2 separate regions of the Homo sapiens genome follow, and region 2 is linked to region 1. The links come from fine-mapping of genetic effects on gene expression. Tissue or cell type: whole blood. Region 1 holds a variant in brackets; the other region holds the start of a gene. All regions are shown on one strand. Distances are from middle to middle.

Region 1 (8,102 bases):
TGTGTGTTTTTTTTTTGAGACAGGGTCTTGCTCTGTTGCCCAGGCCAGAGTGCAGTGGTGTGATTCATAGCTCACTGCAGCCTCAAACTCCTGGGTTCAAGCAATCCTCCTATCTCAGCCTCCCAAGTAGCTGGGACTATAGGTACGTGCCACCATGCCTGGCTAATTTTTTTTTTTTTTGTAGAGACAGGGTTTTTCTATGTTTCCCACACAGGTCTCTTTTCCCCCAAAGACTTTGATAAATTTCTGTTGTTTAAGTCTCCCCTTCTGTAGCATTTTGTTAGAACAGCCTGAGCCAATTGAGACAGTGTCTCGGATCAAGACCAACATGATGTATTGGCAGACGGACACTATGGAGTAAACTTGAAGCTTTCCTCATGTGAAGAAAAGAAGGAAAAAAGAAGAGAGGGAAGGAAGGAAAAGAAAGAAAGAAGGAAGTAAAGAAAGAAGAGGGACAGTTGGGGAGACGGAGGGAGGGAAGGACAGGGAAAGAGAAAGAAAAAAGAAAAAGAAACAGTGGCCTCTAGCTTAGTGACCAGGTTTAGATGATTAAGAAAAATAATAAACACCTCCCCCCTGCCCCCCGCACTTCTTTAATCGTTCTAGAGTACAGTACTTGGGCTGGAAGCCAGTCCACAAATGTGTTGAATGAATAACTGAATGCATGAAATCAGTCCATCTTTACACCTTAGATTTTTGTGCAGCTCTAGATGATGTATGCTTCTCTACTAGGATGAGGGCTTCCTGCAGTGAGCGCTTTCCCCACCAGCCAAGAAGCCAGGTCCCTTTAAGTCTTACAAACAAGCATTTAATACAGGTGCAGCACGGTGGCTCAGGCCTGTAATCCTAGCACTTTGAGAGACCCAAGCAGGAGGATCCCTTGAGTCCAGGAGTTTAAGACCAGCCTAGCAAACATAGCGAGACCCCTGTCTCTATTTTTTTAAGCATTTAATAAAATTGCACGTTGCAATGGCAAATGCACATGCTCCATCCAGACCCCACCGGTAGAGTGGGATCTGTGTGAGGGACAGCACCCTACAGATACAGAGAGGACAGGCTTCCAGGCTTCTCAAGGACTAGAGGGAACCTTGTACGATTTAAAGCGGAGGAACTGGGAGTGGCTGAAATGACAGGGTGTGCTATGGAGTTCTGCAGGGAACATTGGGGCCTCCCGTAATGCTTGCAGGATTGCAAAGAAGGAAAAAAGGGTTTGGGCAGCCTTGCGCTTCTCAGGGCTTCCAGTTGACATCCTATGGACAAAGGCCCTCCTGCCACAGCCAAGGCGCGTTTCCATCAGGGGCGACTCCTGGGGCGCCTGAGAGCAACCTCCTCCCGGCGCGCCCCCACCCTGCTTAAAGGCACCGGGTTGCGCCGGGCCAGCACCTGGGAGCTCCCCAGCCCAGCGCTCGGAGCACGGGGGACAAAGGCCGGTGCCCCCGGGGACCTGATGCCCAAGAGGGCAGGCCCTCTGACCAAGTCGAGGAGGCACACCGGCTGATTCCCAGCGCCCACGTCCGCAGGAGCAGCTTTTGTGCTCATTTCCATTGCATTTCAGCACTTAGAAAAGAGCTGCAAATGCCAGCGACAGGTGGTGTGGATGCAGAAGCAAAGCAGGAGCATGAAAGCCAATCAGTGAAACAGAGGCAGGCCCGGGCGAGGGCACCAGCCTGGGAACCCGAGGCGTGCTCCCTGAGCAGCAGGTTTGGGGTAACCTGAACGGCGGCCTTTGGTGGCCCTGTCCACCCAGCGAAGCAGCTCCTGCCCTACAGTAGCTTTTGGCGAAAAGCTCTTCAAGGCCAGTGATCTCCCTTCCCCAAGCTAATATTATACCACAGATTTCTCTTCTTACGTACTGCAATTAAATATCTTACGGGCTGCTGACTGCGAAGCTGGTGGCTTCAAGCAGCATTTGGAGAAGATATGGAAACCGGCAACGTACCTATCACAAGACATAAGGGAATTTTATGTAATAAATAATAAATAATAAATATTTATTATTTAACCAGGAGAGGTGGTTTCCACCAGGGAAGGGAGAGCCGGGGAGTGTGCGGGGAGGGGTGCCCTACGGTGGGCTAGGAGGGGTGCAGGGGGAGTGCAGGAGGAGGTGGGCAAGTGGGGGATACCGGGGTGGGGCGGGTTGGGAGGGGAGGGGCTCTCAGATGGGAGACAAGAAGTATGCGGGGAGGAAGGGGGGTGGGGGAGGGTGGCGGGGAGGGGAGCAGGAGTTGGGGGAGGGGCTCCGGGGGATGGGTGGGGAGGGGAGCTGGACTGATCCCCGATTTACCCTGAGGAACACGCAAGCCGGCCTCCTCCACCCTGTAAACCCCGAAGCAGCCTCATCCCTGTGCCACACGGGGGTCGAGAAATCTTGGTGACATGCAAAGATTGGGGAGAAAACATTAAGGCGCAAACGTGCATGAAATACAACAAATTCCAAACTCAGAAATAAAACCGAGGGTCGCAGAGAGGCAGCGGAATGAAGGGTGGCTTTGGAAAGCTCGAGAAGGCGCATCAGCCAATTGGTTTGTGGTGTGAGGCGGGTGAGAATGAATTTAGAACCAACTGGATACTGCACCCCTCAGTATTGGGGCGTCACAGCACCGCGGCACCCCTGCACTGCGTACCCATCTTCCCCGGCACCCCTGCAGCCCCAGCATCCCAACACTCCTGCACTCTGGTGCCGGGGCTTCCCTCTATCCCTGGCACCCCTGTGAACTCAGCACCACACCATTTGACAACTCTGCTCCCGGCACCCCTGCACTTCTGCACTCGGGTACCACTGCACCCCTGCATTCATATCCTCTGCCCCCACACCCCTGTAACCCCAGCACCCCCAGCATCCCTGCAACTGGTGACCCTTATAATCCCAGCAGCACCCCATCTGACACCCTTGCGTCCGGCACCCCAGCACTGCGGTACCCCGGCATTCGTGAAGCAGAGCACCCTGGCGCCGCATGCCCTGAGCCTGGGCTGCCCCTTCGCGCAGGAACCCAAGACGGAACCCACTCGCGTTGCGCCCGAGGAGGTGCGAGGCTGGTCCGCCAGACCCGCCCAGCACGTCACCAACACACCTAAGGAAGCCGGCTCCGGTGCCGCCTCCGTGGGGCGCAGGCTGGAGATGAAGGTCCAGGTCTCTGGACTGCGCAGAAACGCTTTTCCCAGAACCGCCCAAGACATTAACTAGGTGAAGTGGGTTATTTTCCCGAGTGCATTTGACGCTTCTTTCCCAGGCCGGGATGGGAAAATGGGCTGGCCACCGGGTCCCTGTCCATCTGTGTCCTCCAAAGGAGGCTGGAGGATCACTTGGGGCCAGGAGTTCAAAACCAGCTTGGGTGACACGACATAGCGAGACCTCGTCTCTACAAAAAAATTTAAAAAGTTAACGGGCGTGGTGGCCTGCGCCTATCGTCCCCCAGCTACTTGGGAGGATGAGGCGGGGCCATCGCTTGAGCTTGGGAGTAGGGGGCTGCAGTGAGCTGTGATCGTGCCATTGCAGTCCAGCGTAGGTGACAAAGCAAGATACTGCCTCCAAAAAAAAAAAAAAAAGCTAACCTGAGTCTAGACTGGACTCCCCAGCCAAGTCTTCTAGTCTTGTTTTGTAGCCTCAGATTCTGCACCCTGCTGTCTTCTTAAGTCACCCCTAGGGGGCATTTTGTTCCAGTGGAAGAGCAGAATATGCCTCCTGCAAGATGAGGGATTGTTGGGCTCAGGGCAATGGAGAAGAAAGTATACAGGAGAGCTCACTGCCCTCCCTCTGGGTGGCTAAAAGCAGGACATGGATTTACAGAAGGCATCCAGCCCCCACCCCACTTCACCAGGGAGAAGGGAGGTTAGCACTGAAGACAACTTTGCACCTTTATTGACTGGAGATGCTACCAGGGGATCTGCATTAGCAAGGGCTACTAACTAGACTTCATGTGTCCTTTATGTGCCTTTCTCCAAGTTGCTGTTCCTAGAGACTCAAAGTTCATCTCTCTTATCTTGTCACTTCTCTGCAGATTTACTGTTCTTTGTTGAAGATACCATAAAAGCGGGAATTCAAAGCCACCTCTTTGAGGACTACCCATTCTCTGGGGGCCACGCATGTATCTAGGAAAGGTAGCTGCTAGTAAGCTGCTATTTGTGCCTCTTGCTAATGTGTCTTTTATAACAGGGGTCAGTTTCAACTAAGAATTGATGGGGTGGAGGGTATTTTCCCCCTACATGATGTCATTAATGTGCTGGACCATCAAATAAATTCTAACACGTAATCAAAAAATTCTTCCTTCCAGAAAAGTAAGAAACTCCTATACTTTCTCTAGCAGGAGGGCTGTGGCCTGTTTGGTTTGCTATTTTAACCGTTTATCTACCCTGTGCCTACACCTGCATGGGTTCTCAACTGTACAGCTGACCCTTGAGCAACCAGAGTTTGACCTTTGAGGGTTACCGATACACCGCTTTTCTCCAGCCTTTGCTACCCCTATCCCTGAGACAGCGAGATGAAGCCCTCCTCTCCTTCCTCCTCCTCTGCAGCCTCTCAGTGTGAAGACCACGAGGATGACCTTTATGATGATTCACTTCCTTTTCATGAATAGTAACTACATGTTCTCTTTCTTAGGACTTTCTTAATAACATTTTCTTTCCTCTAGCTTACCGTATTGTAAGGACACAGTATGTAATATATAGAACATTCA[A/G]AATTTGCCTCAATCGACTGCTTATGTTATTGGTAAGGCTTCCAACAGTAGCCTATTAGTAGTTAAGTTTTGGGGGAGTCAAATTATATGTGAAGGCCAGGCACCATGGCTCACGCCTGTAATCCCAACATTTTGGGAGGCCAAAGTGGGAGGATTGCTTGAGGCCAGGAGTTTGAGACCAGCCTGGGCAACATAGCAAGATCACATCTGCACAAAAAAATAAAAAATACAAAATTTACCTGGCCATGGTGGCTCAGGCCTGTGGTTCCAGCTATTTGAGAGACTGATGTGGGAAGACTGCTTGGGCTCAGGAGTTCGAGGCTGCAGTGAGCTGTGATTACACTCCAGTATGGGCGACAGAGTGAGACCCCAACTCAAAAAAAAGTTATACTTGGATTTTCAACTGGACAGGGGTCAGCACCCTTAACCCACGCTGCCTTGTCCAAGGGAGAGCTGTGCATCCAATTACACAAGTGCTTTCTGAATGCTTTTCCCTCCTGTTCTTCCTGTCTAGCTTCTAACACCACCCTGTCCCCACCTGTAGTAACAACTTCCCTAAATTCCTCCTTATGGGCTATACAATTTTTGGGGAGAGGGTTTCCCAAAATGTGGTTCTGATATCCACACACCTACCTAACATTTCTTACTCTACATCCTCAGGGGGCTGGTCTCGAACTCCTGACCTCAAGTGATCCTCCTGCCTTGGCCTCCCAAAGTCCTGGGATTACAGGTGTGAGCCACCGTGTCCGGCCCCCAGTGAGATTTAAAAACACTCCTCAAAGGCTCCAGCCTCAAGCTGAATCTTCTACAAAACTGAACTCACCTTCTCACCCCAGCTCTCCACTCCAAGGGACGCACACCACATAGAAACCCTGGTGGTGTCATCTCACTCTTCTCCATTTCTAGTCAATGGCCACACTTCTCTCCCTAGCTCAGCACCATGGTGCTGCTCACACACGGGCAGGCATTCTAGATGAGTCCCCCATCTGGCCTAGGAACTTCCTCCCTGGCACTTGGTCTCCCTCCAACCAGTTCATGTTTCTGCATTGGGGCACTGAGAAATTCCAGCACCTGGTCACATCTCTATTGTGTAAGCCCTCACTATGTACATGGTCCCTGGATGCCCCACCCACAATCCTAATCCTGCAGCCCAGCCAGGACTCCCTGCCATCTCTTCTTCTGGGCCTCCTCTCACTTTTTAAAAATAGAATTAAAGGCCGGGCACGGTGGCTCACACCTGTAATCCCAGCACTTTGGGAGGCTGAGGTGGGTGGATCACGAGGTCAGGAGATCGAGACCATCCTGGCTAACACGATGAAATCCCGTCTCTGCTAAAAAATACAAAAAATTAGCTGGGCATGGTGGTGGGCGCCTGTAGTCCCAACTACTCGGGAGGCTGAGGCAGGAGAATGGTGTGAGCCCAGGAGCTTGCAGTGAGCTGAGATCGTGCCACTGCCCTCCAGAGTGGGAGAGAGAGCTAGACTCCATCTCAAAAAAAATAAAAATAAAAATAAAAAATTAAAAAAAAAATTACTCAGGTACAGTGAGGCCAACAGATCAGGAGACAAACACCATTGAAAAGATAGTTTATTACTCACAGTTCCCAAGAGGAGGGGTTTGCTATTGCTAAGCCTTCGATGCCACGAGGGATAGCGCCAGGGTCAGTTAAGAGGCAGATGGAGGGAGGGGAAAGTGTGGGCAGGAGCCTTTACTGTGGCTTTCACTGGAAGGAGCAGGCAAGGCAGACTAAGCTAGCTCACAATGGCTGGTTTGAATAAGCCCAGCAGGCTCTGGGTACCTAACCTTGGGATGCTTTGGGCCACACACCAAGAAAGCAATTCTATAGATTCCCCAGTGGACACCAGCTGGGTGTCCTCCAATGCAATGCAATTCCGACAGCAGAAAAATGCAAATGGGAAATTTTTAAAAGAGTCTTCAGTTTTGGCAGGTTGGCAATATGTGTAGGTATTAACCTGATGTACTCCTTTTAGTCTCCTTTTATATAAGACACAGGGGCTGGACTGTGCCATTCAAAGACATCTCTCAATTTCAACATTTTGTGATCCCCCTCACCCTTTTTCCATTTACACATAGAAAATTTGGAGTGCCAACCAAAATAACAGAGAGAGAACGATAGTGGCCTGGAGTGTGACAGCTCCATAGATGAGTGGTTGGGGCTGTGGGCTCTGGGTTGGTGAGTTTGTATATGAAATGCACAATCCCAGTAATTTTTTTTTCTAGCTGTAAATTTTTTTTTCTAGCTATAAAATTGTCCCCGGGAGAAGCTGTCCCTCCATGGCCAGTGAGGCCCTGGATGTCAAAGCCTCTGAAAATATAGAAAATCAAAGGCATGGTTACTACACTTGCATTCCTCTATCCTGCCAGGAATGCTGTTTGCTCTTTTTGGGGCTCAGAAACTGATACCCCAGCGCTTTGACATGCTGAACTGAATAAGAAGCCTCCAGGTCTCTCTGACCTTCCCCTCCTTCCTGTCTCCCAATCTTCTGTCTCTCCCAAAGCACTGGATGAAGCTGTTCTCTGAAATTCCCCTATCTGCCTAAAGTGCAGACCTGCTGCAGCAGAAAACAATGGCCTCCGATCCCTTCCCTGAGTTTCAAACGGCTGAACTCTCATCACAGGAATGAGGACTGAAGTCGGTCAACATGCCTGGACAGACCTTTTTTTTCTAGCTGTAAATATATTTTTTAGCTATAAAATTGGCCCTGGTAGAAGCTGTCTTTGTCACAAACCAACAGACTGTCCCAGACCATTGTATGTTCTTCAAGCCCGTTGAATTTCCCTAAAAAATATTTACTATCCCCCTAAAATAATGCACACTTCCTTATCTCCCTTTCCCCTAAGAGGAGAATAAAGGCCTCTGCACCCCATTGCATGGTGGGGTAACCACCCTGTGATTCTCCCCATGCATGTTAATAGATGTGTAAGCCTTTCCTCCTAGCAATCTGCCTTCTGTCAGCTGATTTTATAACAAAACTTCAGAAGATAAAGGGGAAGTTTTCCCTTGGCTCCTAAGCTGTCCACCCTGTTGATCAGAAGCAGGGCAATGCTGATAACACACCAGTAATGTCCTGATCCTTGATGCTCCTGCCCCGCAACTTTCTAGGTCTGTGCAGTTAGCCCACATCTTTTTTTTCTTTCTCTCTCTTTTTTTTTTTTTAGACGGAGTTTAGCTCTTGTTGCCCAGGCTGGAGAGCAATGGCGCGATCTCGGCTCACCGCAACCTCTGCCTCCCAGGTTCTCCTGCCTCAGCCTCCCGAGTAGCTGGGATTACAGGCGTGTGCCACCACACCTGGCTAATTTTGTATTTTTAGTAGAGATGGGGTTTCTCCATGTTGGTCAGGCTTGTCTCAAACTCCCGACTTCAGGTGATCTGCCTGCCTCGGCCTCCCAAAGTGCTGGGATTACAGG
Region 2 (8,102 bases), 55 kb before region 1:
AGTTAGTCGGGCATGGTGGTGGGCACCTATAGTCCCAGCTGCTTGGGAGGCTGAGGCAGAAGAATTGCTTGAACCCGGGAGGCAGAGGTTGCAGTGAACTGACACCGCACCATTGGATTCCAGCCTGGGCAACAAGAGTGAAACTCCATCTCAAAAAAAAAAAAAAAAAAAATTAAAAAGTGCCCTTTCATGAAGGAATTTCCAGTGGTCAAGGCATCTATACCAGAAAGAGAGTTCCAAAAACAACTCTTCACCTGAGACACTTGTTTAAATACTTAACCAACATCACCTGCCTCCCCAGCCCAGAGGCCCCCAAGCCCTATTCCTTTGTGGTGCTGACCTACGCCCCTGCCCTCTGGCTGCCTCCTTTGTGGTATTGAGCCCCCACCTTCTGGCTGCCTCCTTTGTGGTACTGAGCCCCCGCCCTCTGGCTGCCTCCTTTGTGGTACTGAGCCCCTACCCTCTGGCTGCCTCTTTGAGTCTGATTTTTGAGGCCCCTTCTCTCCACCCTATGTGTGCATCTGTAATTTAAAATTGCCTTTTTATCTTTTTCTCTGCTGTTCATCTGTCTTAAGTCAGTTTCATTCTGAGGCCAGCCACAGAACCTAGAAGGGTAGAGGCAACTTTCTTCTTTTCCTGCCACTGCGGCAGCATATCCCCACGGGCAGACACAGACGTGGAAATGCAGGAAGATGGAGCAGCAGCAGGAAAGGGACTGGACAGCCCTGGGCACCCACCTGCCACTCGGCTAAGCTCTGCTCCTCCCTGGCCTGCAGATTCCCTGTCCTGGTGATCTGCTCCCGAAGGTACTCCATGTCCTCCTCCAGCTTCAACTGTGGGACACACAAACCGCAGGATTTGGGATCAGCGATCCCCCTACCTCCTGCCTAGAGTCCAGTTGTGCTCGCTGAAACTGCACCCACCCCAGAGACCCTCCTCAGGAGGGGCAGGGGATCAAAATACGTCACCCAGAATGTGCCACCTTGGATTATTTTGAGCTGAAGGCACTTAAAAAAGGGCAGGTGTAAGAATTGCTGTGACCCTCGGCCTTCCTAAGAGCAGAAGGCACAGCCACCATGCCAGAGAGGACTGCCCTAGGCCAGGAGGAAAGCCATGTTCTTACCAAGGGCGGGAAAGCCGAAACCAGAGAAATCTGTGCAAAGGGACCCTGCTAAACTAACCCTCATCCTCCTCAGGTACATGTTTGGCTCTAACATGCTTCCATGGGCCTCTGGCTCCTTGGGAGCGACTCCTGGGTCATGGAAAGCTTACAGGGAATGAATTTCAGTGCTTTGCTTCTGCTTATCTGTCTCAAATCAGTTTGGTTCTCAGAGCCACCCAAAATACTCTGAGAGGAGAGGTAAGATTTTGCAATGCCTGCATCATACAGTGTAGGCCCACATTGTCCCCAGGGACACCCCTACCCAGCCACAGGCCACCTTGTCCCCTGGATGCCTCCTCCCCAGCCCCTGACTCGGGCCACTTTGTCCCTGGACACCTCCTCCCTCCCCCATGATCTGGGTCACCTTGTCCCCCTGGATGCCTCCTCCCCGGCCCCTTGACCTGGGCCCCGATGTGGCCTACCTTGTACCCCTGCACTGCCTCCTCGGCGGGCAGCACCCTGTGCAGCCGGTGCTCCCGGGACTCCCTGCACACCACACAGATGGGGCTCTGGTCCTTCTGGCAGAAAAGCTTGAGGGGCTCGTGGTGCTCCTGGCACAGGTCTTGCTTCTGCAGACCAGGATGCTGCTGCGCCATCTCGGCCACCTTGGTCAGCAGCCGGTTGGGCAGCAGGTTCCTCTGCGGGGACATCTCTCTGCACTCGGGGCAGGGGAAGGAGCCCTTCCGCTTCCGCCTCCCCTTCTTGCCCCTCGCCTTTTCCCAGCTCAGCTGGATGCAGGCTCGGCAGAAGTTGTGGCCACAGGTGGTCATCACAGGGTCTGTGAAGTAATCCAGACAGATGGAGCACGTAGCTTCCTCCTGCAGTTTTCTGGCGAGTTCCACAGCCTCCATGGCTCCTGGGAGACACGAGGCAGGTTCCCGCTTGAGGGACTCTGGAGAGAGTTGGAGGGAGCAGCCCGATGATCTGGGCGCCGGCAGTGTGCAACCGTCCTGTACAGCCTCCCTTTACAGAGGAGGGCTAGGACTGCAGTCCAGTTAGAGAGTCCAGAGTCATCATTTTTAGCCTTGTCAACAACAGACACAGATGCCTCCCCAGAAACTACACAGACCCTCCCTGACCAATGCTCTGCAGGCCCCTCCGCCTCTCCTCTCCACTGGGCCTGGACCCTACCCGTCCACTTCCGCCTGCTGCTGGCTACCCCCAGCTCCACATCTCATCAGCTCCTCCTCCCCGACAGACCGTTGCCGGCTAGGCCTTCAACCTGCCTTTCTGGAGAAGCCTGCTAGGTCAGCTTAGGGAGAAGCCCCTACCCTTGGAGCCTTCCCTTAATCACTTTCCATCCACTGACCCCACCCAGATCCCCACTCCAACTCCCCCATACATCCCCAGCTGTCTTTGCTGGCGCAACTCTCCCATTGCAAGTAGCCTGACTAAAGAGCCTTTCAAATGTCAGAATTTTTTCTTTAACAAAACCCCGTACACCAAAGGAAGAAGGGATGGGCTATCAGAGGAAAAAAGCTCTCTTCCATTCGGTAGTGAGGTGGGGTTCAGAAAAAACACGCGTGTGCATGTACGCACAGACGAACACCCATACACATACCCATGTATGTATACAAACGTGCATGTGCACACACGCATACCCACGCATACACACCACACAAATACAAACATGTACGCACAGAAACACTGATCCACAAACACAGCACACACAGGCACAGATGCACATATCGGTAAACATACATGCATGTACACACAGGTACACGCGCGCACACACGCACAGGCACACAAGCATGCACATAGATGCCCCCTGCAATCTCAACACTCGCGACCCCACGCAGTGGAGATCTACAGACTTTCGCCTACGCCACGGGGTTGCTATGGGGACCGAGTTGCAGAAGGAGTTGAAAATCGCGTCTACACTGCAAGCACGATTCTCCCCTTCCGTTCTGCCATCCCCTAAAGCGAGGGCGTCTAGGGGTCTCAGACTTCCCCGGCTCTGTCCCACGTCCAGTTTCTCGGAGCTTTCTGCACGCCAACCACCCGGCGCCAGCCCTCCGACTCCCCCCAAGAGCCCTAACGGAGGCACCCAGCCCACCCTGACCGAAGCCGGGCAGGGACAGCGGCAGCGGGCCTGGGGCTCTGGCTCTGGCTGCCGGGATGGCTGTCCTTCCCGCTCTGGTCCGCTAGGGTCCCGGTAGAGTTACCTTGTTGAAGCGCGCTAGCCCCTCCAGGGACGCGGCGGCCGGCGGAGGCGGGAAGGCCGGGCGTTGGAGGGCGAGGAGGACCGGGTTAGGCTTAGGTCGTGGCCCAGGCGCCACAGGAGGGTAGCCTAGGCGGCGGGGTGGGGGCTACTCACCGCGGGGAAGGGGGGCCCGCACAGCGCCTAGTGCACCTGGCCGAGCGCTCGCTGCCGGGAAAGGCTGGGTCTGCCCCCACGAAGCCCAGGAGGCTGCGGCCCGGCCCGGGGCGTGGGGACCTGGGGTCGGGAGGCCTAGGGACTTTGTGGCGTCAGCGGGGGCTGGGGGGCGGCGGGGGAGGGGAATGCTGGGCGAGGGAGTGTTCGGCGGCCGGGACTGGGGCGGCGCCTCTTAGGAGAGGTTGGGGGTGGCTTGGGGAAGGAAGGCGGCAGGGGGTGGAAGGCTCTGGACGAGCCGGGGACAGGCGCAGCGGGTGCTGACTGGGCGGTGGGGAGGATGTGGTCCACAGCCCAGCGAAGGGAGGAGTCTTGTTGGCCTGGGGTGGGACTTTTAGGGGAGGTTAAGGGAGTGTGGAGGGTGGGGAGTTGGGGGGTTACTTGGGGGTGGGGAGTGGAATGGGGACAGCTGGTGGGGCTAGGGGCGGGCAGGCGAGCGTCAGGGTGGGGGGAGTGGGATTGGAAGAGGCTTCTCAACCTGGGGTTGGGGCTGCGGGAGGGCACGCGAGCCCCAGGCTGGAGGGTTAGGTGAGGGGCTAAGTTGGTCGGGGTAGGGGATGGAGAGGAGTTTGTGTGGGCTGGGGTGGGGGCGAGGCAGCAGGAGCGAGTGCCTGTTGAGAAGCTATGAAGGGGGTCCCCAGGAGCAGCCAGTCAGCCGCCAGGTCTGCCCACATGGTTGGCAGTCAGCATCAGGCTGAGGGTACAGGGAGGGGCGTCCCAATCCTGTGGGCGGACCAGTTTGGAGGGACCACCTGGCAGGTCAGGTCCCCTAGAACCAGGCGGGACGGGGTGGGTCTTGCCGACACCCCAGGTGGTTTTGTTACCAGAAACAGGTCCTGATCCAGACCCCAAGAGAGGGTTTTGGATCTTGGGCAAGAAAGAATTCGGGGCAAATCCATAGAGTAAAGTGAAAGCAAGTTTATTAAGAAAGTAAAGGAATAAAGAGTGGCTACTCCATGGGCAGACCAGCCCCCAGGGCTACAGGTTGCCCATTTTTATGGCTATTTACTGATTATATGCTAAATAAGGGGTGGGGTATTCATGAGTTTCCCAGAAAAGGAAGGGCAATTCCAGAAACTGAGGGCTCCTCCCCTTCTTAGACCATATAGGGTAACTGTGACCTTGTCTTGGCATCTGTAAACTGTTGTGGCACTGGTGAGGGTATCTCATAGCATGCTAACGTATTAAAATTAGCATATAATGAGCAGTCATGATAACCAGAGGTTATTCTGGTCGCCATCTAGGTTTTGGTGGGATTTTGCTGGCCTCTTCACCACATACTGTTTCATCAGCAAGGTCTTTATGACGTGTATCTTGTGCCAACCTCCTATCCCATCCTGTGACTTGGAATGTCTAACCTCTGGGGAATGCAGCCCAGCAGGTCTCAGAATTATTTTACCCAGCCTCTATACAAGATGGAGTTGCTCTGGTTTAAAAGTCTCTTACGGTTTCAGCCAAAATGCCGCCCCCAGCCCTGCCCAGGTCCTGACTGGTGGCCATTTCTCCTGGCCTTGAGTCCCCACGCCTAGTCATCACGCTTCATCCTCCAGTAGAGGGATGCACCTTTCACATGGAGGGTTCATCTCCTGCTTTCAGGAACAGGAGCCAGAGGCCTGCGTGCCCTGAGTCAGAGTCCTGGGATTGGAGAGAGAGGACAGATGAAGAAACTAAGGCTTGGCCCACACAGGGGGTGCAGACAGGCAGGAAAACAGGGCCTTGAAGGCTAAGAGGCACCATTCTGCAATCTCCTGGGTGTGCGGGTGTAGACAGCTGGCCACAGGCATAGATGGCTGGCTTTCCCTGGGCTCACTCGGTAGAGTGTTTCTTCTGTGGTCTCTCATCACTCGCACACACAAAGGGGTCTGTGTGCTGTCAGGTGCGGGCTGGCTGCGCACACTGGCCGATTAAGTGAATTACCCTTGTGAACCCAGAATATCTGAGGCTAGTTTAAGTCAATTAGGAAGTTTATTTTGCCAAAGTTAAGGACACACGCCCATGACACAGCCATGTGCCCAAGGTGGTCCGAGCACAGCTTGGTTTTATACATTTTAGGGAGACATGAGACATCGATCAATATATGTAAGATGAACATTGGTTCCATCCAGAAAGGCGGGACAACTGGAAGTGGGGAGGGGGCTTCCAGGTCATAGGTAGATAAGAGACAAATGTTTGCATTCTTTTGAGTTTCTGATTAGCCTTTCCAAAAGAGGCAATCAGATATACATTTATCTCAGTGAGCAGAGATATGACTTTGAATAGAATGGGACGCAGGTTTGCTCTAAGCAGTTCCCAGCTTGACTTTTCCTTTTAGCTAGTGATTTTGGGGCCCAAGATTTATTTTCCCCAATAAATTGGGGATTGGGCAGACCCAATCCTCTGCCTGTCATTTGCATCAGTGAGGGGATTGTGAGCTGCAGGTTTCCTTCAATTGGGAAAACAGAATCACAGAATTAGAGGGGAAATGGAATATATCTATATCTTGCATAGCACCACACATGTCCTAGTCACCTGCTGACACGTTATCACCCTTTGTTACAAATGGTTTACAAGCAGCTGAGCCTAACAACTTCTTTGGGTTTTCACTTCTTTCCTGTACACCCCATGCATATAAAAATATTAAGATCAATACAACATGGATGCCTTTCTCCTGTTCGTCTGTCTTTGGTCAATTTAATTCACAGTCTCCTCCCATACTAGCATGATGTGGGGAATTCAACAAATACTTGTTAAAATGTGGCATCAGCCCAGGATGCTCATTATTAATGCTTTTTAGGCTCACCTGGTTATTGAGCTGAGAAATCTATCATCATGATAAAACAATTGGAATAACCTTCATATCCTCAAGTCATTAAGAAAAAATCAGATAGCAGTTATGTGTCCTGATAAATTGTTAGGTTTAATAAAAGGCAGGATGTACAGTATATGTAGTCTGCCACTATTTAGGTAAACATAATTACTGTATATGTATCTCTTGGAAAATATACAAGAAATAAACAAGAAACTCCATCTGATGAGGGAAATTAAGGGCTGAGGAACCCCCTAATTGAGGGAGGCTCAATTTTCACTATATATCCTTTTGGAATTCTTAAATTGAATTCTACTTTAATAATTTAATTCTTAAATTAAATACCACTGCTGTGGATTGTGGTTTTTTTTTTCAAATTATTTAAGCAAAGGATCAGCAATGTCAGTCTTGAAACACAAGTCTTACTTACACTGCTACAAGGTAAATATCCTTTGCCCTTACTGAATGCAGCCCCCACTAAGTTATTAACATTGTAGAAAAGATTCGAGAGCAAAATTTAAGTGCTCATGCAATTTAAAATAGGCTGAATTAAATGGAAAAGAAGAGGGGCTCCTGAAAATAGGGTAAGAGAGCCATGGCCTCTTTATGTCTTCAATTCAGACTGCTCAACAGGAGAGTCCACTGAGCCACAGAAAAACAAATCCGGATTGTTATGAACTGAATGTCTGTCTCCAAAATTCACATTTTGAAATCCTCACCTCCAAGGTGATGGTGTTAGGAGATGGAGTTCTTTGGAAAGTAATTATGCCATAAGGGTGGAGCCTTCATGAATAGGATTGGTGCCTTTCCAGAGATTTATTTTCACCTTACCCCTTGCACCACATGAGGACGCAGTGAGAAGGCCCTGTCTGTGAACCAGAAAGCAGAATCTCACCAGAAGCTCAATCTGTTGGCACCGTGACCTTGGACTTGCCAGCCACCAGATCTGTGAACAATAAATTCCTGTCGCTTATAAACCACCAAGCCATAGCATTTTGTTATAGCAGCCTGCATAGACTAAAACGAAAGAAGACAGATTAATGGGAGAAAGCATACACATTTCATTTGTACATGTACATGGGAGCCTTCACAGCAAAATGAAGACCTCAAGAGTAGTTAGGCCTAAGTGCTTATCCACTGGATGGAACAAAGGGTAGTAATTGTGAGAAAGCAACTGGAATACCTAGGGAGGCTGGGGAAGGTAAGAGCTATTTTTGTTTGTTTGTTTGTTTGTTGGAGACAGAGTCTCACTCTGTCACCCAGCCTGGAGTGCAGTGATGTGATCGTGGCTCATTGCAACCTCCACCTCCTGGGTTCAAGCAATTCTTCTGCCTCAGCCTCCCAAGTAGCTGGGACTACAGGTGCGCGCCACCACACCTGGCTGATTTTTTTTGTTTGTTTTGTTTTTTTAGTAGATACGGGGTTTCACGTTGGCCAGGCTGGTCTGGAACTCCTGACCTCAGGTGATCTGCCTGCCTTGGCCTCCCAAAGTGCTGGGATTACAGGCATGAGCCACTCTACCTGGCGATAAGAGCTACTTTAACAAAGCCTGTTTGTATACATTTTGCTGCACTTCAGTCCCCATGCCTAGTCATGCTGTTTCTCCCTGCTGGTAGAGGCAAGCACCTTTCCCATGGAGGGTTCATCACCTGCTTTCAGGAAAAGGGGTCAGAGGGCCCTTCTTACACCTGCTGTTCTTCAAGTGCCTTCAGCTCAAAATAATTCTTATATCAAATCTGCATATTTTGGGGAGGTCTATTCTGCTATCTTGTTGGGAGCTG

Evidence for each region. PIP is the estimated chance that this variant, and not a neighbour inherited with it, causes the effect.
Region 2: it holds the start of TRIM17, and the variant in region 1 is fine-mapped to the expression of TRIM17 in whole blood (TOPMed, PIP above 0.99).

Annotation. Positions count from the first base shown.
Region 1 is chr1:228,468,344-228,476,445 of GRCh38, forward strand. No RefSeq gene overlaps it. Among named protein-coding and RNA genes, the nearest start is that of MIR4666A, 10 kb to the left of the region's middle. RefSeq lists enhancers at 2,508-3,018, 7,668-8,102. The variant A/G (reference allele first, on the strand shown) is at 4,674.
Region 2 is chr1:228,413,060-228,421,161 of GRCh38, forward strand. TRIM17 (tripartite motif containing 17) reads right to left here and starts at 3,802. Exons shown (of 7, transcript NM_016102.4): 1 at 3,480-3,802; 2 at 1,585-2,054; 3 at 738-833. The coding sequence starts at 2,013. It overlaps LOC124904537 (a long non-coding RNA gene), which reads left to right. Exons shown (of 2, transcript XR_007066918.1): 2 at 1-198. RefSeq lists a silencer at 3,261-3,370.